Regions from separate parts of the Homo sapiens genome. Here region 1 is linked to region 2. The links come from fine-mapping of genetic effects on gene expression. A gene starts in region 2. The other region holds a variant in brackets. All regions are shown on one strand. Distances are between the middles of the regions. Region 1 overlaps PARP6 (poly(ADP-ribose) polymerase family member 6). Region 2 holds the start of PARP6 (poly(ADP-ribose) polymerase family member 6).

What was found. PIP is the estimated chance that this variant, and not a neighbour inherited with it, causes the effect.
Region 1: its variant is fine-mapped to the expression of PARP6 in tibial nerve (GTEx, PIP 0.96).

What each region holds. Positions count from the first base shown.
Region 1 is chr15:72,241,801-72,252,825 of GRCh38, reverse strand. It overlaps PARP6 (poly(ADP-ribose) polymerase family member 6), which reads left to right. Exons shown (of 24, transcript NM_001323532.2): 17 at 1,571-1,619; 18 at 1,872-1,981; 19 at 2,734-2,806; 20 at 3,512-3,581; 21 at 10,127-10,206; 22 at 10,606-10,669; 23 at 10,841-10,925. Among named protein-coding and RNA genes, the nearest start is that of PKM, 16 kb to the right of the region's middle. The variant G/C (reference allele first, on the strand shown) is at 4,778.
Region 2 is chr15:72,266,848-72,277,872 of GRCh38, reverse strand. PARP6 (poly(ADP-ribose) polymerase family member 6) reads left to right here and starts at 5,319. Exons shown (of 24, transcript NM_001323532.2): 1 at 5,319-5,480; 2 at 6,586-6,850; 3 at 10,202-10,398. The coding sequence starts at 10,396. RefSeq lists enhancers at 4,817-4,906, 4,967-5,016 and a silencer at 5,157-5,576.

The sequences.
Region 1 (11,025 bases), 25 kb after region 2:
TTTGTTAATTTATTTTTTAAATTGACAGATAGAAATTACAGGGCCGGGTGCAGTGGCTCACACCTGTGATCCCAATACTTTGGGAGGCCGAGGCGGGCGGATCACCTGAGGTTGGGAGTTCGAGACCAGCCTGACCAACATGGAGAAACCCCATTTCTACTAAAAATACAAAATCAGCTGGGCATGGTGGCCCATGCCTGTAGTCCCAGCTACTCGGGAGGCTGAGGCAGGAGAATCGCTTGAACCCGGGAGGCGGAGGTTGCCGTGAGCTGAGATTGCTCCATTACACTCCAGCCTGGGCAACAAGAGCGAAACTCCGTCTCAAAAAAAAAAAATTACATGTATTGTGTACAACATGATGTTTTGAAATATGTGTACATTGCAGAATGGTTCAGTAGAGCTAATAAGCATATGCATTATCTCGCGTATGTATTTTTTGTGGCGAGAACACTTAAAATCTACCACAGTGATTTTGAAGAATATTACACATTGTTACTAACTATAGTCACCACCAATAGGTTTTTGTGTCCTTTGCATGTAGAAATTAACACTGTTAATTTCAACTAAGTTTTCTTTGCATCCAGAGACGTCTGTCTCCTCCTGCTATCCCCTTGCCCTGTCTCTGGGCCTCCTTGATGATATAGAATGTCCAGAGCCTTGAGGCACTATTGCTGTGCTCTTCTCCTAGCCAAGATTTTGACTGTCCCTGCTGCCATCCATTCCTGATCTCAATTTCTATTGTTTTCCTGACATAGCTTTCCCTTTTTAGTTTGCCTCCCTCTTCCTAGTCAGCCTTCAGTACTTCCTCAGTGCAACAGCTTTCTCCCTCTTAGCCTGAGGAATAACCAGGCATAGACCATCTGAGGTGGCATCACAGGTACATAGATGAGGCACAAAAAACAAAGACAACAGCAAACTGTATCCACATGGGAGATAGTGCTCTCTTGCTGAGCCCTCAGTGTTTTATGTCTGTTCTCTTCTATCTTCTGTGTTCAGCCTGTATAGAGCTTAGTCTGTCCTTGACTCCTAAGGAAGTTCATTCTAGTTTCTTCTGTTTCTTTTTCCAGCCTAGACAGTAACTTTCTCTCCGTTTCTCCCCATTCCTGAGAGCTTTCATGTTTTCTCTTAAGCTAAGGAAGGATGGCTTCTGAGCCCAGGTCTGAATCTGAGTCTAAATCCCAGGTATAAGTTGTCACCATTCTAATTCAGACCTCTTGCTGTTTTTTCTTTTCTTTTTTTGTAGGTGACCTCTGTGCTCTTCCTTTTGTTCTACCCTTTTTACTCCCTACTTGTAGCAGCACTCCTCCCACCCCTTTTTTTTTTTCATCCATTGTTTAACTCCCCAATAATTAGCTTGTGTCTGGTCACTACCTTCCTTTTTACCTTTTTATTCATAAGCACTATCACCCACAGGAATATCCAGATAGTGACCTTGACATTTCACACAATTTGGACAGCCCAGGAATCCTTGTTTATTCTCCCAAAGGCAGAGGAAGACTGGCTTGTTCAGAAAGGATAGCTTAAATACATAATTATTCTATCCTTTTTATTTTTTTCTGTTTCTTCCCAGGATCATCTCTAGCAACAGGTCACACATTGTCAAACTACCTCTCAGCAGGGTAAGTGACCATTCTCCCTCTAAATGCTTTAAATTTCTGGTGAGGGGCAGGGAGGGGCTGGAAGCCAGCTAACCATATTGGTCCTAGATCTGCCTACATTGCTCTGTCCATCAACTTAGTCTTTGGGCCTTAGCATATTTCCCTTGTGTGGGGTTAATGCAAGCCTGATTTTTTCCCCTATCCCCAACCCTTCCCTCCCTGATCTCGATTTCTGCTCTGTTTTCCTGATTCCACCCCCACCCTGGGCAGCAGCTGAAGTTCATGCACACCTCACACCAGTTCCTCCTGCTGAGCAGCCCTCCTGCCAAGGAGGCTCGGTTCCGGACCGCCAAGAAGCTCTATGGCAGCACCTTTGCCTTCCAGTGAGGAGGCTGGGGGCTGGGCAGTGGGGGTGGTGAGGGGGCGGGGATGAGCAAGAAGGATGCCCTTGAGATATGAGTTTGTGTTACATGTGTCCATCAACCAGTCAGCAGATACTTACTAAATGCTATTGTGGTAGGTGCTATAGAGGACAAAAAGGTACATATAATGTGGTCTTTATTCTCAAACTATTTATGATGTAGTTGAGGAAAAATGACATTTACATGTGAAAAGATGTGGCTGAAGAAATAGATTGGAGAGAACAGATCTGAAAGCTACTTTGATGGAAAAATCCACAATTTATGCCTAATTTTGAGAGGAGGGAAAGAGAAAGAGAGGTATTAAAGAGAACTTATAGGGAGTGGTAGTACCCTTTTCTTAAAATAGAACATGAAGTCAGAACTGGAAGCCATATTTGGGGTCAGTGATAAATTTGTTGATTTTCAGATGAATTTATTGAATTTGAAATGTCAGGATAATGGGCAAATAAAAATACTGAACCAGCAGTTGAGGATTTAGGATGGGAGTAGCTGAAGCACCGAAGAGAGGATGGGACTGGAAATAGAGACGTAGAGTTTAACCACACACACACATCTTGCATGCCTGTGACTGTATCCATGTGCATGTCCATCACTAGGTGTACCTGTCCATCTTCATGTCCTGTGTGGGTGAGAATGGGTGGGAATGGCAGTCTTGGGAGTGTTCCTGGGAACCTCATATCATAAGGAGACATGTATTCTACCCTGCCTTACAGTGGGTCCCACATTGAGAACTGGCATTCGATCCTGCGCAATGGGCTGGTCAATGCATCCTACACCAAACTGCAGGTGAGGCTGTGCCCCTTTCTCCTTTATTTCTAACCGCTCCCTTCCCTACTCAGTTTTGTGGAAGGCTGCTCTAGAGTAAGCTGTTTTTGCCTCAGTGTCCTCAAGCCTAACCTGTCTTGTGGAGTTCCCTAGAGAGGAAGTTAGAACTGTATGAATAGAGAACGTGGCTGTTGTGTATTTGATCTCAGTCTGCGTTTTTTTGGTGGTTTGGGGAATGGGAATGTACCTGTAAGCAGGAATATGGAATTGCTGATTGTAGCCACTGTGATGAATTAATCTATTAGAGCTTTTCAATTTATGTGGCTATTCATTCAAGGAGTAGATATGGGAGACTTTTTCTATGCCCTGAGAGACTCCAGGGAGTGTGTATTGGCCCTCCTTCTGGCTACCCGTTCTGTAGTTCCTCTTTTTTGGAATCTGCATATGTACCAAGGCCTGGAGACAGGAAAATGAATGCTGAGGGACTGACTCAGTGGTTCTACCATTTCCCACTCTCGAATGTGTCAGTATGTAGCACTTCATAGGCAAGCAGGTTAACCTGCATCCACTTTTCAGCCAGTTGGCTTTCCGAGAATAGGTGCTTAGGGTTACTTGAATGAGAAGGTAGAAGGAGGGACAGAGGGCTGGATAAGCCTTGCTGCTGCCTAATAAATAGCCATGGGAGGGCCCAGGCTCATATTACTCATCCTGGTGTTTCCCTGCAAGCTGCATGGAGCAGCCTATGGCAAAGGCATCTACCTGAGCCCCATCTCCAGTATTTCCTTTGGATACTCAGGTAAGAAATATTCTGTGGCCACCTTGACTCTATTTACATTGCCTCCATTTGTGAATACATGATTTGTGCTGTCTGTTCCTCCCTCATTATGGATACTTGGTCTGTGTCAGCTCTCTCCCCGATCATGGATACATATTCTCTCTCTCTCTACATTTTCTTATTAGAAATTTAGATTCTTTACAAGGTGAGGCCAGTTATTGTTAAAAATGATGGTTTTATTCATAGCAGGGGCTTGGCCCTGGGAATGGGTGGAGGAATAACAGGGACATAACAAGGCTTTTTGTAGAACACGTTTGGTGTTGGCAATTATAGATTGTGTTTGTGTATACTTGTACATGTAAGTTTACATGTGAAAACATCTGAAGGCCTGAAGGCTTGCGTCCTTTCCATTGGCTTATATTTCTAGAGACACTGTTCTCTCTCTCAACCATCTTTTAAAATTTAAACTGTCTATAATCTTACACTATTATGTTAGTCACATTGAATGCAAGATAAAGCATTTTATTCTAAAGATGAGGTCCAGATTCTAATCAGGAGATGAGTCAAGCTCAGAAAAGGAAATCTGATTTAGAGTTCTCTCAGTCTTCCTGGCTTATGTCTTAGTTCATTTTCAGTCTGCTTTTGTGCTTGTTTGATGTAGTCTCTGTACAAGGTATAGTCACCATGTAGTTGCATGTTCACTACATGAAGGGGATTGTGCTAGATTCTTAATAGATTATTACTTGATATCCTGTAGTAATTTGTAACTGTTACAAAGATCAGAAAATGTAGTGCCATCAGGAGGCTGAGGCAGGAGAATCGCTTGAACCCGGGAGGCGGAGGTTGCAGTGAGCTGAGATTGCACCACTGCACACCAGCCTGGTTGACAGAGGGAGACCCCGTCTCAAAAAAAAAAAGAAAAAAGAAAGTGCCAGAATCAGAGGCCTAAAAACATCTCTAACAACAGAATAAACCAAACAAAATAGAAAAAAGGAGATAATACAGGTAAGAACTAACACCTGTGAAATAAAAATAGGTACAATAGATAGTACCAAAAAAGTCCAAAGATGATTTCAAAGAACTAACAGAACAGATAAACCCTGGTTAGATTAAGAGAAAAAGGACACAATTAAATAATATAATGACCAAAAAAAGCAGTACAACTATAGATAAGCAGAATTTAAAAAGGTAATAAGGCGGGGCACGGTGGCTCACAC[G/C]TGTAATCCCAGTACTTTGGGAGGCTGATGTGGGCAGATCACTTGAGGTCAGGAGTTCAAGACCAGCCTGGCCAACATGGTGAAATCCTGTCTCTACTAAAAATAGAAAAATTAGCCAGGCATGGTGGCATGCACCTACTCGAGAGGCTGAGGCAGGAGAATCGCTTGAACCCAGGAGGCAGAGGCTGCAGTCAGCCAAGATCAAACCAGTGCACTCCAGCCTAGACAACAAAGCAAGACTCTGCCTAAAAAAAAAATAAAAAGTAATAAGAGAGTTACCTACACTATGCTAATAATTTAAAAACTTTGATAAAATGGATAAATTTCTAGAAAAAGATAACAAATCTGACAAGAAATAGCCTGTATAATCATAATACTATAAAAGAAATAGAAATTGTGTAAAAATTTCCACACACAAAATAAACCTCACCAAGCCCAGATGGTTTTACAAATTAATCTTAAACTTTCAAGGAACAAATTATTTTAGTTTTATCTAAAGTCTTCCAGAGAATAGAAAAAATGGAATTACAAATCATAAAAGATTGATAAATTTGACTATATTAAAATTAAAAACTTCTGGCTGGGCACAGTGGCTCACACCTGTAATCCCAACACTGGGAGGCTGACGTGGGATGATTGCTTGAGCTCAGGAGTTCAAGACCAGCCTGGGCAACATGGCAATACCCCATCTCTGCAAAAAAATAAAAATAACCAGGTCTGGCAGTGCGTGCCTGTAAGTCCTAGCTGGTCAGGAGGCTGAGGCAGGAAGATCACTGAGCCCAGGAGGTTGAAGCTGCAGTGAGCCATGATCATGTCACTGCACTCCAGCTTGGGCAGTAGAGCGAGACCCTGTCTCAAAAAAGAAAAAAAATTTAAAACTTATATTCTTCAGAAGACACCCTAAAGAAAGTGAAGAGACAGGCTACAAACCGACAGAAGACATTTGCAGCACATATAACCACAAAAGATTAGTAATAAAAGTGTACTTTTTGGCTGGGCGCAGTGGCTCACGCCTGTAATCCCAGCACTTTGGGAGGCCAAGGCAGGGAGATCACCTGAGGTTGGGAGTTTGAGACCAGCCTGACCAACAGGGAGAAGCCCCATCTCTACTAAAAATACAAAGAAAATTAGCCAGGCGTGGTGGCACATGCCTGTAATCCTAGATACTCAGGAGGCTGAGGCAGGAGAATCGTTTGAATCTGGGAGGCGGAGGTTGCAGTGAGGTGAGACTGCGCCATTGCACTCCAGCCTGGGTAACAGAGCAAGACTCCATCTCAAAAAAAAAAATAATAATAAATATGTTCAATAAGAAGAGGGAAGTCCCAGAAGACAGAGTGAGACTGTGATGCCTTTTTTATATTGTTCAAAAGCAAACAAAATTAAACATTGTTTAGGCATATATATGTGTATTATGTGTGTGTGTGTGAAAACTAAAGGAAAAAGAAAAAACAAAAGAATAATAACTCAAATTGCAGGATAGTGATTACCTCCAAAGGGAGGCATATAGTTAGATGTAAGTCACTGGTAATGTTTTAGGTTTAGAATTTAGTTCTTTGATTGGGTCTCTGGGTATTCATTGTCTTATTAAAAAATAATAATGAGGCTGGGCATGGTGGCTCACACCTGTAATCCCAGCACTTTGGGAGGCCAAAGCAGGTGGATCACGAGGTTGGGAGTTCGAGACCAGCCTGACCAACATGGTGAAACCCTGTCTCTACTAAAAATAGAAAAATTAGCTGGACATGGTGGCAAACATCTGTAGTCCCAGCTACTCGGGAGGCTGAGGCAGAAGAATCACTTGAACCTGGGAGGCGGAGGTTGCAGTGAGCTGAGATCGTGCCACTGCACTCTAGCCTGGGCAACAGAGTGAGACTCCGTCTCAAAAAAACAAAACAAAACAATAATGTGTTATGAAACAAAGATTATGATTAATCCACACAGGGCAAGTGACCAACACATATTTATTGAATATATGAGTGAATCTTACTCTGTGTGCCTGGCATCCAAAGTGGGGTTAGGGTTGGAATAGTCTTTTTGATTTGTCTGGATTCTTCACTTTTTATCTTTGTCTCAGCCTAAGCATCCCTCTGATTAAGTTCTTTTGTCTTTCCGAGTAGTGAGATTCTCATGGTTCTTGGTGCCCACTGAGATTCTTCTTTTCTGTTTTCTCCCTATGCCCTCCCTTTCTTTCTCTTTTCTCCCCCTGGCCTTTGTTTACTACCAAGTGCCTAAATACCTTTAGTTACCAGATGAAGCCAGAAATCTCTGTTGACCTCTCGTCTTTCTTCATCACTTAACCGATTACATAAAGATATCATAGACACCTTTCATCTCCCTCTCTCAAAGGGTAATTGATTATAGATACAAAATGCAGTTGAATTTTACTATTGGAGTTAGAGATCATCTAATTTAATCCCTTATTACTTTACAGATAAGAAAGCTGATATACAGAAAAGTTAAATGATTTTCTTATGGTCACACAGCTATGAGTAGCAGAGATAGGGCTGCAATCCAGGTCTCCTAATTTCTAGGCCATTGTTGTTATCACTATATGATACGGTTTGGCTGTGTCTCCACCCAGATCTCATCTTGAATTCCCATGTGTTGTGGAAGGGACCCAGCGGGAGGTAACTGAATCATGGGGGCAGGTTTTTATTTGTTTTTGTTTTGTTTTGTTTTGTTTTTTGAGACAGAGTCTCACTCTATCGCCCAGGCTGGAGTGCAGTGGCGCGGTCTCAGCTCACTGCAAGCTCTACCTCCCGGGTTCACGCCATTCTCCTGCCTCAGCCTCCCGAGTAGCTGGGACTACAGGCGCCCACCACCACGCCCAGCTGATTTTTTTGTATTTTTAGTAGAAGTGGGGTTTCACCATGTTAGCCAGGATGGTCTCGATCTCCTGACCTCGTGATCCGCCTGCCTTGGCCTCCCAAAGTGCTGGGATTATAGGTGTGAGCCACTGTGCCTGGCCCATGGGGGCAGGTTTTTCCAGTGCTGTTCTTGTCATAGTGAATAAGTCTCATGAGATCTGATAGTTCTATAAGGGGGAGTTTTGCTGCACAAGCTCTCTCTTTGGCTGCCACCATCCATTTAAGATGTGACTTGCTCCTCCTTGCCTTCCACCATGATTGTGAGGCCTCCCCAGCCATGTGGAACTGTAAGTCCATTAAACCCTTTTTCCTGTATAAATTACCAAGTCTTGGGTATGTCTTTATCAGTAGTGTGAAAATGGACTAATACACTATATTAGACTGACAGAGTAGGCCTTGCTTGAATGACGGGTCTCTGAGGGCCCTATAGATATGTGAGTATGTATAATGGGATGTTGGGGGAAATGTGTGCAAATGTTCCACTTACTGTAGTTACTCCAGCATTTGACCAACTGTCTTGTATGTTTTCTTCTACGCTATTCTGCTCTGGTTTTCTGTTTTTTCTTTCTCACACTATCTTTAGCCTAATGGCATTGAGTGCCCTCTGGAAGTGAGGGTTGGTGTAAATAGCGTTCATATATCTAGTTCCAGTGACTTGGCTATAAAGTTCAGGTTGAAATAGGGGACAGTGAAAAAGGAGGTGATATACTCCATCTGTTTGTTTAGTCTTGTTTAGGGACTTCTGATAAGTGCATACTCTGGACACAGAACATCTAGGGATTATTCTAGCCACCATGATCTCAGGTTCTGGGCTCAGGAAATGGACAATCATTGGATCAGTGTGGAAAGGATAGTGTACAACAGGATTGAGTTGGGACAAGATTTGGGTTATATCATAAGGGCCATCTCTAAGACCTGCCAGAGAAATCAGATTGTTCTTTATTATCTTTTATGTGCCTCCTCTGGAGTATAACCTGAATGGGAATTTTACTTTTTGTCACTGACATACCCAGTTTGAGAGAAGGTCATGATGTTTGGGTGGAGAGCTGAACCTAGTTAAGGCTAATGGGGAAGGTGAAAACAGGGGTTATGAGTACCTGTCCTGTAAAAGGAAGAAATGGGCAATTCAAGCCTTGAGGCTCTTGGTGTCCTGAGTTTTGTTCAGGCCCTACCTAAATCTGTCACGAGACTTGAGTGTAAATGCATGATGAATTGACAGCCTGAGCAGTGAAGAATGTCAGTTCAACAGCTATCAGTCTATTTCTACACCATGGCTATGAGAAAACCAAGAACTGATCAGAGTGGAGTTAATAGTAATAGAAAGTTCCAGGGTAGAGTGGTGAGAGTGCTTATGACCTATAATGATAGCATCATCTCCATCTTCATCTCTCTCCCTGGTGGACACACACAGGCACGTGTGTCCACACATGGGTAGACATTTTTATCCCTAACTGTGGTAAGATTGGGCCTATGATAAAGCTGAGTACAGAGACTTAACGTCCTATCCTCAAACCAAAAAGAGTGAGGAGTGGGAGCACACAAGCACATTTTCATATCTAAATAAGAAAAGTCCAAGTTGAGTCTATAAATGTTATAAACGGGTAAGGAAGGTAGAGAGTTTATGGATTTAGATAATGTGGAAACTAGAAGGAATGGGCACTTCTTTCTCAAGCCTGGGAAGACTGTTTGAAGTAGGATTCTTCAAGTTAGTTGCCATTGTGATTTCCTGTACAAAATTATTCATCACTTAACTGCTGATGCTTTTCTCTTGAATGACTGGTCAGGTTTTTAATGTAACTTTGAGACTAGAGCAAATCTGACTTGTTCTGCTTGCTTCCTTTCCATTCATTTTACTCATCCAGGCACTTGACACCAAGGTATTGATGTCCCACTCTCCTGGGCCCCTCATTCCTGGCTGATTTCATGTGCTGCTCCCCTATCTTAGAACCCTGCAGTGGTTCCCTAATGTTCTGAGGATAGACTTTAGTTGCCTTAACATGGCCTGCAAAGCCGGCTTGATCTGATCCTAGCTTGCCTCTTCTACATCATTTCTCACCACTCCTCTGCAATTCACTATTCTCTATGCAACTAACACACACTACCTTATCTTTCCTTCAGGCCTTCTGTATCCTATTACTTCTTCCCAGACACTTCCCCGCTGTTTATTTAATTAACTCTTCCTAATCCTGCAGTTCTCAGTCTAGCTGTCACCACATGACTTCTTTAAACTCTTAGGCTAGGCTAGTTGCCCTCCTCTAGGCTCACACCATGCTCTATAATCTGCATCACAACCCCTTACCATGCTGTGTTGTTAATTACTTGTTCTTGCTTGTAATTTCCAGCAGACTAAATTCTGTGGGGGAAAATAATCTTCTTTGTTTTATTCTCTGCTGTTTTGATGAGCATCTAGCTCAGTGCTGGGACATAGTAGGCACTTTCGTAAATTTTTGATAAATGAAGTGGGTGTATTGTTCTGTGACAGGAATGGGAAAAGGACAGCACAGGATGCCCTCCAAGGATGAGCTGGTCCAGAGATACAACAGGATGAATACCATCCCCCAGGTATTGGAACTATTCTAATGAGGCAGGACCTTTCCCTGGGGCTAATTTAGGCTCCAGAGCTGGACAGGGAAACAGTGGGGTGAGAATGGGTTGGGGAGTGATTTGAGATCATTTAAAGGAGTCAGGTATGTTCTAAAGTGAACACACGTCTGGAGTCATATGTAGCTGAAGTCATGAGTATAAAAGCAGAGGCTGAGTTTAGATGAAAATGTAAAGATGGAAGCTGTGACCCTATCCAGACTGATTATGGGAAAGAAGAATTTTCTGGGCGGCGAGGGGTGTTGCTGGGAGCCCAGGATATCTCTGATCCCCACTCCCAATCATCAGCTAACCAGCCTCTCTAGGGAAAGCTGTACCCATCTACCTGGCTCTGGTCTCCTTTGCCTCCTTCTCTTCCAGACCCGATCCATTCAGTCACGGTTCCTGCAGAGTCGGAATCTAAACTGTATAGCACTTTGTGAAGGTAGGTAGCTTGCCCATGTCCTGTTTTTCTGGGTCTCTAACCTTTGTTTCTGATGTAATTTTGGCACATGATCTGGCCAAGAGTGATGTTGAAGTGGCATGGCTTCCTTCTCCTGCCTGGACTCTGTGCCTTAAGCATTGTATCTATGATTTCTGGCCCTCTTTCTCCCAGTGATTACATCTAAGGACCTCCAGAAGCATGGGAACATCTGGGTGTGCCCTGTGTCCGACCATGTCTGCACAAGATTCTTCTTTGTGTAAGTGTCGGAGGGACTCTGGGGATTACTCGAGGAGTGAGGTTGGGGGTGTGATGGTGTGTGGCTACTGGGAAAAGTCTATTTCTGTTATCTGAGACAT
Region 2 (11,025 bases):
TCAGATTTGAGTTTTAGAAAGATCCCCTAAGCAGCTAAGTGGAGAATAGATTGCAGGAGTAGATACTGGATAAGGAGTCTATTAGGAGGCGAATGCGATAGTTCTGGTAGGGAGGAATAGGAATATAAAGGAGGGATTGATTTAAGATGTATTAATTTGCTCGCACTTGTAATCCTAGCACTTTGGGAGGTCGAGGTGGGAGGATAACTTTAGGCCAGGAGTTTGAGACCAGCCTGGGCCACATATTGAGACCCTGTCTACTACTCCCCAGGAGGCTGAGGCTCATTCCACAGGCTTTTTAGTTTCTTGCATTTTCTGCTCAGCACCTAAGATATCCCTTGGGAAAAGCCAGACCCAGGCGTGTGGCCTGTTCTGCCTTCTGAGTCTCTGTGCTTTTAGGCAGCTAGAGGGCAGGAGGCCAGAGTTTGGAAAGAAAGAAAAAGAAGAAGAAGATGTATTAAGATGTAAAATTTAGAGTTTATGAGGTAAAATTGGTTCCATTTAAATAAGGATGGGAGAAGTCTAAGATGCTTTCTTCTCAGGGTTCAGTCTGAATAAGTCATAGGTGAGATTTACTAAGTTAGGAACATGAAAGAAATACAGTGAGAAGATGTTTGCCTATGTGACATCCAAGTGGAGCTGTCCAAAAGACAACTTGACCAAAGTTAACTTGAAACTCAAGAAGTACAGGATGGAAGCCAGGCGCGGTGGCTCACGCCTGTAATCCCAGCACTTTGGGAGGCCGAGGTGGGTGGATCACAAGGTCAAGAGATTGAGACCATCCTGGCCAATGTGGTGAAACCCCGTCTCTACTAAAAATACAAAAATTAGCCAGGCGTGGTGGCGTGCATCTGTAGTCTCAGCTACTCAGGAGGCTGAGGCAGGAGAATCGCTTGAACCTGGGAGGCAGAGGTTGCAGTGAGCCAAGATCACGCCACCACACTCCAGCCTGGCAACAGAGCGAGACTCCGTCAAAAAAAAAAAAAAAAGAAGAAGAAGTACAGGATGGAAATATAGATTTGGGAGTTCCAGTCTATAACTGTGTGTCACTCAGGTGGATTTAAATGAGACTTTTGTTGAAAGGGCACTAGGTGGGTCACGGGATTGCCAGGCAAAAGACCCAAGCTTGGAAAATAGGCAGGAACAATGAGAGGCCAGTCCACCACAGCACAGGCCAAATTCAGATGCCAGAACCAGCTCCACAAGACCACTGCTGCTGTCATCATTATTGGACATGGGATGTCACCACTACCAGTACCCACACCATGAAAGTCCCTGGGCATGGGGTAAAGCTGACCCTGCTCTCCTGTCACCATTGCCACTGGCATGAATTCTCTATGATTCTATTTCTCTGAGTCACTCCAGAAACTACATTTCTGGAAGATGCTTGGCCAGGCCAAGGTCACATGCCTCTGTCTTAGCTAGAGAGCTGGGAAAGCAAAGATTCAACCTTTTTAGTGTCTGTCATGAAAGATAGGCTCTGCTTACTTCTAAAACTTGTAACATAAGAAGGAGATTCTGTTTCTGGGCAACCCCAAATTATCAAGATCTCCTTCAAGTGGCCATGGAGGCCACAGGGAAGAGTAATAGGAGAAATGGATGTGGGCTGAACTGCTTTTCTACTTAAGTAGGGAATGAAGGAAAGGGAGTATAATAAGGATACTGTGAAGGAGTCATATGAGGTGTAGCAAGAAACTGGAAGAGTGTAGCCCATAAGAGCCAACAGAGGAAAGGGTTGCAGGGGCAGGATGATCAACAATGCCAAATGACACCATGCAGTCAACTGCAGGGGCAAGATGATTGACAATGCCAAATGACACCATGCAGTCAACTGCAGGGGCAAGATGATTGACAATGCCAAATGACACCATGCAGTCAACTGCAGGGGCAAGATGATTGACAATGCCAAATGACACCATGCAGTCAACTGCAGGGGCAAGATGATTGACAATGCCAAATGACACCATGCAGTCAACTGCAGGGGCAAGATGATTGACAATGCCAAATGACACTGTGTGGTCATATAAATGAAGCCTGAAAATTCCCAATGGATTTGTCCATTTGTAAGTCATGTGTCACTTTGGTGAAAGTATTTTCAGTAGAAATTTTGGGGAGAGGTCAGATGACACCAGATTTAAGGAACAACTGAAGACAAGAAAGTGGAGAGGGGGAGTATAGGCTACTCCTAGAAGTTTGGTTAAAGGCAAGAAAAATCAGTAGCATGGCATATAGGATTCAAATTGGATTTTCTTTTTACGGTTGGGCTAGTTGATCAAGCTTATATACTGAGATCAACGAGTAGGGGAGAGGAAAAAGTTGAATATAAATGAAAGAGAGAGGTAAGGAGCAAATTTCCCAAGGAGGCAAAAAGGAATGAAATACAGATCACAGTGAAAGGACTAACTTTGTATTTGAAGAGAGCCCTCTCCACTTCTGAAACAGAAAGGATGGGAGAGATTCAAATGTTTGGAGGGGACAGAAAATTGAGGCAGTTCCCCCGTGGCCTTTTATTTATTTATTTATTTTTAAAGAGATGGGGAGTCTCGCTCCATTGCTGAGGCTGGAGTGCAGTGGCATAACCACAGTTCACTGTAGCCTTGAACTCCTGGGCTCCAGAGATCCTCCTGCCTCAGCCACCCAAGTACCTGGCACCCAGAGCCTTTATTTTTTCTGTGAAGCAGAATGGGGGATGGTGGGAGAGGCTGACATGGGAAGGGTTGCTGGGTACACTGAGGACTCTGCTGAGGAGACAATGAATTTGTAGGAGCTCTGTACTGAGTGCACATTAAGTTAGCTTAAGCCATTTATTCTAGATAAAAACTGACTCCTAGTCCCTCAAGATCAGAGGGCCTCAGAAAGTGCCTTGGGCAGGGTATAGTGGCTCACACCTGTAATCCCAGTACTTTGGGAGGACAAGATGGAGGACTGCTTGGGCCCAGGAGTTCAAGATCAGCCTGGGCAACATAGGGAGACCCCATCTCTGCAAAAAAAAATTAATTAGCCAGATATGTTAGTGCATGCTTAAGCCTTGGAGGCTGCAGTAAGCTATGATCACACCACTGTACTCCAGCCTGAGTAACACAGTGAGACCCTGTCTCAAAAAAAAAAAAAAAAAAAAAAGAAGGAAGGAAGGGAGGGGTGCCTGGGAAGCTGCCAGAAAGCAGAGAGTAGTCTCACCATTTCTGGTCTCTGCCTCTCCATGCTTCATTCTGTGTCCCCAGATGGTCTTTTTCCTTTTCTCATTCATCATAGTAGGTGGGAGGTAGATGTACCATAGCTCCTAAGTCTATGTCTCTTTTGCTTAAGAAACCAGTCCAGTTAGAATCATAATCTGTCAGCTCTAATCCCAGATTTTCAGGAGAACATCTGTTTAACACAGCTTAGACCAGGAATCCACTCACAGTTCAATAAACTGCAGCTAAAGTGCTAGAGGTCACACAAGACGAACATGGCCCTGGGGCCTGTGGATCCATAGTGTGGGTGTGGAAACGATAATTCCCACAGAATAGGGTTCATGGGCTAGACTAACCTAAATGGTGTCCACTCACAAGCTTAAGTGTGCAGGATTGGATGACTTCCTTTATCCTGGTTTAGGATGGGAGAGTAGAGAAGGTAGATAGCTGGCATGACCCAGGAGTGTGATTTTTACAGAGTAAGTGCAAGCATATTAACAAAGATGTGATTAAAATGACTGACCAAGGATGTGGACTGGGTAGGAAAAGAGGTGAAGCCTGGAAGATACTGGTAAACTATGAGGTGGCTGAGATTCATGATGAATAGAAGAGCTAGTGGTGGTATGCTGGAAAGGGGGAATCCTAAAGGTTATTGAATACTGGAGTTGGACTTGTCACTCATGGGCACAGTGCTTATGTTCAAACACTCCCATACATACTTGGTTCTCAAAAGCTATTACGGGGCCCTTGATGGTGAGTTGTTTTAGAGAGCAGGCCTGACTCCTTCCCCTACCACTCTGAACTTCCGCACTCTGAAACCGAGGTTATATTGATCCCTCACTTTTTTCAGTTACTATAAGCAGTAGATGTAACAAACTCACACCGAGACGGTGTTGTGGCCCAGGCTGAGTGGCAAGGTGAGCAGAGGGGGACATCAAAAGGGGAAGGAGTTAGAAAGGAGAGGCTGAGAATGTGCAAATGTAAATCAACCAACAACAAAAAGTTAACTGGGAAACTTCTGAGGCCAGCTTAGGAGGGATAGACATGACGTGTTTATATCATTCAGGGCCAAAGCCTTCTTTGTGTGTACTGTGTCCAGCTACAAAGAGGGAGTGAGGAAACAGAGTAGGTCTAAGATAAGCCTTTTCCCATTAGTGTTGATGGAAAAGAGGGTCACGTGGAAGCCCCAAGACTAATAAGGATGAAGGAGATCTGGCCATGTCTAGGGTTAATAACCACAATAACCACAATTACAGCTTCCATGTATGAACTACTTCCTAGTCCCAAGTACTCTGCTGGTTACTTTACATGGATTAGTTGGAATCGTATGAAATTGAAGGTATCTGACTGTTTATAAACTGCAAAAATAGCAATTTCCTACGGTTCAACCTAACACTATCTCAGTTCATCCTCACCACAACGGCTCCGTGAAACACATATTACTGTCTCCACCTCAAAGAGGAGAAATCAGATTCACAAAGTGAAAGTCATCGCTTAAGGCTGCACCATCAATAAGTGCCGAACCCAAGCTTCAGACCCAGATTGACTAGAAGGCCAGGGTGCTCTCCATCACGCTGCAGCTACCGGGGAACAAATGAGTTAAATGCCAGAATTTTTAAAAGCCCGAGGTGTTCGACTTCCATTGTCGAACCAGAGAATCCTGCAGTCAGCAAGGCCTCAGGACTTCCCTCAGTCTCTACCTGCCGGCCCCAACCTCCGGCGAGGGGACTCCCTCCCGGCCTACAGGCAACCTGGGTTGCCCTTCCTGCTTGTTCCTCCCAACCACTCGGGGCGCTAAATGCAAGTATTCTCCTTTGGAAGGCTCCCCGCACTCCCCCAGAGTCCCTCTTCCTTCTCCACTGCCTCCCCTACCCACGGCGCAGGCGCCACCCCCCACTCCGCACCCTTTCCCGACTAGCGACCGCCGCGCAGGCGTCTCAAGGCTGGCGTCGGCTGCTGAGGCGCGCCCAGGAGCAGGCCGTCAGGCTGTTGGTCAGGAGCGGGCCACGTGCCATCGTGTCACCGCGCGAGCGTGCGCAGAGTGGCTGAGCGCGCCCGTGACGGAACGACGAGGCGTGGGGTGCGCGACCTCGCCCGCCAGGCCCGGCCCCCGCCCCTTGGCCTGCCGCTCCGCCCCCGCGGGGCGTCCCGGGCCGCTCGTCCCGTCGGCTGCGGCCGCGCGCGGCCCGGGGTCGCCGTGAGTACTCGCCAGGCTGGCCTGTGTGGCCGCCACCACGGGCACAGGGCGGTGCGGCCGGGCCACGGGAAGGGTGCGGGGCTCGCCCCGTCTCCGCAGGGGTGGACGAAGTGAGAGGCTTGGACCGGGAGGTTCTGAGGGCCCCTCCTAGGCTGGACAGGCTTCACTCAGGCCCGGCGGCCGGGCGGCATAGATCGGGCCCAGAGCGTCTTTCCTGGGGAGGCAGGTGTTGGGTGTTTTTGGGGTCTTCAGGGGAGCCCCGGAGAACAGGTGTAACTGCTTCCCCGGGAGAGGCCTCAGGGCCTGTCCTGGAAGCACGGGTGCCAGAGAGTGTTTTCGCGGGGCAGCCGTGTCCTCTCTCCCTGCGGGGTGCCCGAGATAGCGCTAACCTGCGGGAGTCGCCCCTCAGTGATTCTTCCTAGTAGTCTTTGTTTAGTGGCCTACTCCTGAGAAGGGAGCACACGGGATGGAGTGGAGTAACCTCCTCCAGGACCACAAAGCCGGGAGCCCAACCCACAATTTAAACATTGAGCTCTGAAGCTGCTTTGACTAGACGTGAAGTTGTCACACCTAGAGAAGCGCCCATGGACCTAGGGAAAGACCTTTGTGATCCAGACTTGAGGCTCATTTACATTTGACTTATTCTCGTGGAAACTCATAAAGCGTTCTATATTAGCCGCTGAGTTTTAACACCTTCTCTGGACACTCATCATATAGTCTATTTTTGGCCCAACTTCTTTTGAAAGGGCCCATTCTTTACCTCATTTAGATAAATCAGATAGGTCTTTCTTGCTTACTTCATTAACAACTCAATTAATTATAACCACATCACATGAAGATTAGATGTAATTAGGACCTGTCCAATGTCTTTACATCCCAGTCCTTCTGTACTCCTAACCTTAAGCAAATTGGTCGACCTCTGTAGGTCTAAGTATTCTGTGTGTAACATGAAAGCTTTGAATTAGGCCACGTTTCCGGCTAATTTTTTAAAAAGTGTTTGTGATCCTGTGAATTCCATAACCCACCACCTTCCTTTTCCAACTCTTCACCTTTTAAATCCACTTTCCATCTCTCCAGAGGAAAGGGCATTGAGAGTAGAGGAAGCAAGTCCCTTTCACTAAAGCAGCCTGGTTTGAAAAAGCCGGTAATCTCTGAACTGTCTCTTGCTTGAACAAGAAAAACTCCCTCTGAAATACCTTTTTCTCCTTGTGATAGCAACAGAAACCAAGCAGCAACAGCCCTTGGAAAGAGGCTAAATTTTTCTTGACTTCTGCAGCAACAAAGACCGTGAAAAGTTGGCACTTCTGGCCTAACGCTGCCGTCATCCTACCCCTCACCCCAGGGCAACCCAGGCTGGACATTTAGTGCCTCCCTCTTTATTCCTCTGTGATCATCCAGATCAGCACTTGACTGTTTATTTTCAAATCTCACGAACCTCACCCCAAGATCTTCACATTCTGGATCTCAGCTGCTCTTGAAGGTGAAGTTTTGCTTTTTAAAATCATTTTTTTGTGTGATTTTTGTCTATGTGTAGAAACATGCAGGTTATTGTATATATCTCCCATTTGACTTAAGTATCCAGCAGAGGGTTCATTCATTTATTCTCTCATTCAAGAAATGTGTTAAGGGACTAAGAATGTAGACTGAAAGCAGTCAAAGCCTCTGCCACCAGAGGTTACATTCTGATAAACATTTTATATGTTAGAACATGGTAAGTGGAAAAAAATAAAGCTGGGAAGGGAGATAGAGAGTGCTAGTGTGTGGGTGTTGAGTTGTTTCTGTTTTAATAAATAGGATGGTCAAGGTGGCCTTTGAGCAGAGATCTGGAAGAGTGAAGGAACAAGCCATGTGGATATCTGGGTGGAAAGCATTCCAAGAAAGGGGAACAGCAGGGACAAAGGCTCTATGGCGGGAATATGCTTGGGAATATGGTGGGAAGATGAAGGCCCTATAGTGGGAATATGCTTGATGAGTTTGAAGAACAGTAATGAGGCAATTGTGGAGTGTTGGTTAATCTTCCTGTTAACATTTAGACTTGACTTTGAGGACAGCCCATTAGAGTAGCTTCTGATTTTTTTTTTAAACTTTTTATTTTGAAACTTTTCAACTTTACACAAAAGTAGGGAGGTAGGGATTACCAGAAAACCATCATGTACGTCACATAGCTTCACCAGTAATCAACATTTTGCTATTTGCTGTATTTATTTCATCTGTTATCCTCCCTCCTTTTTTTATGTGTGTGCCAGGGTAGTATTTTAAACAAATCTCAGTAATCGGGTCATTCCATCTCTAAGAACTTTAGTTATACTTTCCGTTTGCATGTTGTTTCTGAAGGATCAGGCAACACTATGAGCTGGAAGACTCCTATGCTGGCTCTGCTCTGGCATGGTGTCTTTTGTCCCCATCCTGGCTTAGTTACCAGACTTAAGTTGGTATCTAAGGAATGAACCACAGGTCCTTAGAACACACAAGGATCTAGAACTAGAACAGTGGTTCTCAAATTTTATGCATCAGAACAACTTGGAGCGTGTGTTAAAACACAGATTACTGGGTCCAATTTCTGGAATTTCTTTTTTTCTTTTTCTTTTTTTTTTTTTTTTTTTGAGACAGAGTTTTGCTGTTGCCCCCCAGGCTGGAGTGCAATGGCGCAGTCTTGGCTCACTGCAACCTCTGCCTCCGTAGGTCAAGTGATTCTCCTGCCTCAGCCTCCTGAGTAGCTGGGATTACAGGCGTGCACCACCATGCCTTGCTAATGTTTTTATTTTAGTGGAGAAGGAGTTTCACCATGTTGGCCATGCTGGTCTCGAACTCCTGACCTCAGGTGTCCTGCCCACCTGGGCCTCACAAAGTGCTAGGATTACAGGCATGAGCCTCAGTGCCTGGCCATTTCTGGAGTTTCTAATTCAGTAGGTCTTAGGAGGAGTCTGAGAATTTGCATTTCTAACAAGTTCCTAGATGATACTGATGCTGTAGGTCCACCAACCCCAGTCAGAGAATCACTAATCTGGAAACCTGACATTCAGTAGAACTGTATTAGAGACCTGCCAGGCACAGTGGCTCACATCTGTAATCCCAACACTTTGGGAGGCCGAGGCGGGTGGATCACCTGAGGTCAGGAGTTCGAGACCAGCCTGGCCAACCTGGTGAAACCCCGTCTCTACTAAAAATACAAAAATTAGCTGGGCATGGTGGCGGGCGCCTATAATCCCAGCTACGTGGGAGGCTGAGACAGGAGAATTGCTTGAACCCGGGAGGCAGAGGTTGCAGTGAGCCGAGATCGCACCATTGCACTCCAGCCTGGGCGACACAGCGAAACTCTGTCAGAAAACAAAAAAAGAAGAAGAAGAAGAACTGTGTTAGAGACCAAGAACACCTCTGTTTGAGGTTGGAGTAGCTTCAGCTGCGATGTGTGCAAAGCCAGTGACTTGCTGGTCTAGAGAGCAACAGAAAGCTTTTTTAGCCTGCTTTTAGGGTAGATTTGCCATCTTCAGCCATTAAAGCCTTCATAATTTCACAGATGAGTTTTTTGTTTTGTTTTGTTTTTCTGCTATATGTGGAGGTTTTAATGGAGCTAAAAGTTGCTGGTATAGGATTAGGAGTCTGTGGGATTAGAAGCGAGCAGGGAATTGTGTATGAAAGGGCTCTGGGTTAAGTAAAAGTTTTTCTAAGCAATTTTTGGGATAATTATTGCATTTTTCTTTGGGAAGCAGGTTCCAAGATGACTTTAGGGCATTATTTTGGCAATGACAACTGAGACCATAACTGCCAAAAGATGTTCAGTGTTGTTGAGGACTTTTTATTTTGAGATGGAGTTTTTGCTCTTACTGTCCAGGCTGGAGTGCAGTGGCGTGATCTAGGCTCACTGCAATCTCCGCCTCCCGGATTCAAGCGATTCTCCTGCCTCAGCCTCCTGAGTAGCTGGGATCGTAAGCGCACGCCACCACACCCAGCTAAGTTTGTATTTTTGGTAGAGACGGGGTTTCACCCCATTGGTCAGGCTGGTCTTGAACTCCTGACCTCAGGTGATCTGGCCGTTGAGGACTTTTTAAGTTAGCTATTGTTGCCGTATAATAGCTAGTAATACTGATGTTTAAAGAGAGATACTGGCTAATATGGAGAAATAACTAAGAATAAAGAGTCCAGAAATAATCCGATTCTGAATCTTAACTCTGGTGTGAGTTGGTACTCTGAAGAATTAACTGACAGAGTAAACATAAGCATCTTGTCCTGCCACCATCACTTTTGGCTTTAGGAGTTGTAACATTATGAGCTAGAGCAGGATCTTGCTCTAATCCCAGCTCTCCAGTTTAAGTAGAACAGCAGTATCTTGCATATAGTGCTTTTGTGTTTCATTATCTATAAAGAACTGCATGTGCAAGTGTGCATGTATATGCACGCAAGCATGTCTTTTTATATGCAAGTATCTGTATGTATAATAAAAGTGTATTAATAGCCAGGTGCAATGGCTCACGCCTGTATTCCCAGCAATTTGGGAGGCCGAGGCCGGTAGGTCACCTGAAGTCGGGAGTTCGAGACCAGCCTGGCCAATGTGGTGAAACCCCATCTCTACTGAAAATATTAAAATTAGCTGGGCGTGGCAGCAGGCACCTGTAATTCCAGCTACTTGGGAGGCTGAGGCATGAGAATTACTTGAACCCAGGAGGCGGAGGTTGCAGTGAGCCAAGATCGCGCCATTGCACTCCAGCCTGGGCGACAAGAGCGAAACTCTGTCTCAAAAAAAAAAAGTGTATTGATAAATACGTGTGCCTGTATATATACACCACCCAGCTATTAAGTGGTGATGAAACCCATTATTATCTACTTTCCACAGGACAGTGACTTGTTACCACCGCAACAGCAGAGCCTGCCATCCCCAACAGATCACCAGTTGTCCCTGACATCGTGCCCTACCTTGTCTCCCTTTGTGGTCTCCTAAATGCCCATCTCGTTGGCCTTGGTTCGGCTAGTGGTATGGAGGGGTGCTGCCTAGCACTGACCTGAGAGTGTGTGTGACCCACTGACCCAATGGTGAGAACTGACTGCCCACCTCTCCAACTGATTGTTCAAAGGGTAGAGGAGACAAAGTGCAGATCTCACCCTTTCTTGGTATTTTCCCTTCTACCCTTTTGGAAGATAGAGTGGCTATTTGAAGTTAAAGGAAAGGGAAGGGGCACAGAAACAGTATTACTTGGTGTGTTTGTGTAGTGGGTTTTCTTGGGGAGGGAGAGGAGAGTTAAGTACTTTAAAGGATAGAAAGAAAATAATGAGACAAGAGAGTTTAGGTGTGCTTGGGAACTGTCTTAGGTAATGATCCTGGAAGAGGCCAGCTTGTACTGGAACCCAGATATGCTTAGGAGTCAACCTTGACATTGAAGTCATTTGCATTTCTTTCCTACTGGCTACCAGAGCCTCTCAGTCATCATACTGAGACTTCAGAAGGCCAAAATTCCCTAGATGTTTTCCTCTGTCCCACTAAGAGCTAGTTTATGGATATGATCATATCAGGAAGAGACTGAGACTCTCACAAAGGGTGACATGAAAGGTGTAAAGGGATCAGGGCTTCAGTTATTCTATATTTCCCAATCTTTGTGGGAATCTGTTCCTCACCATATCATCCCACGCCTTTCCATGGGATAATAGGGACCTAACAAAGCA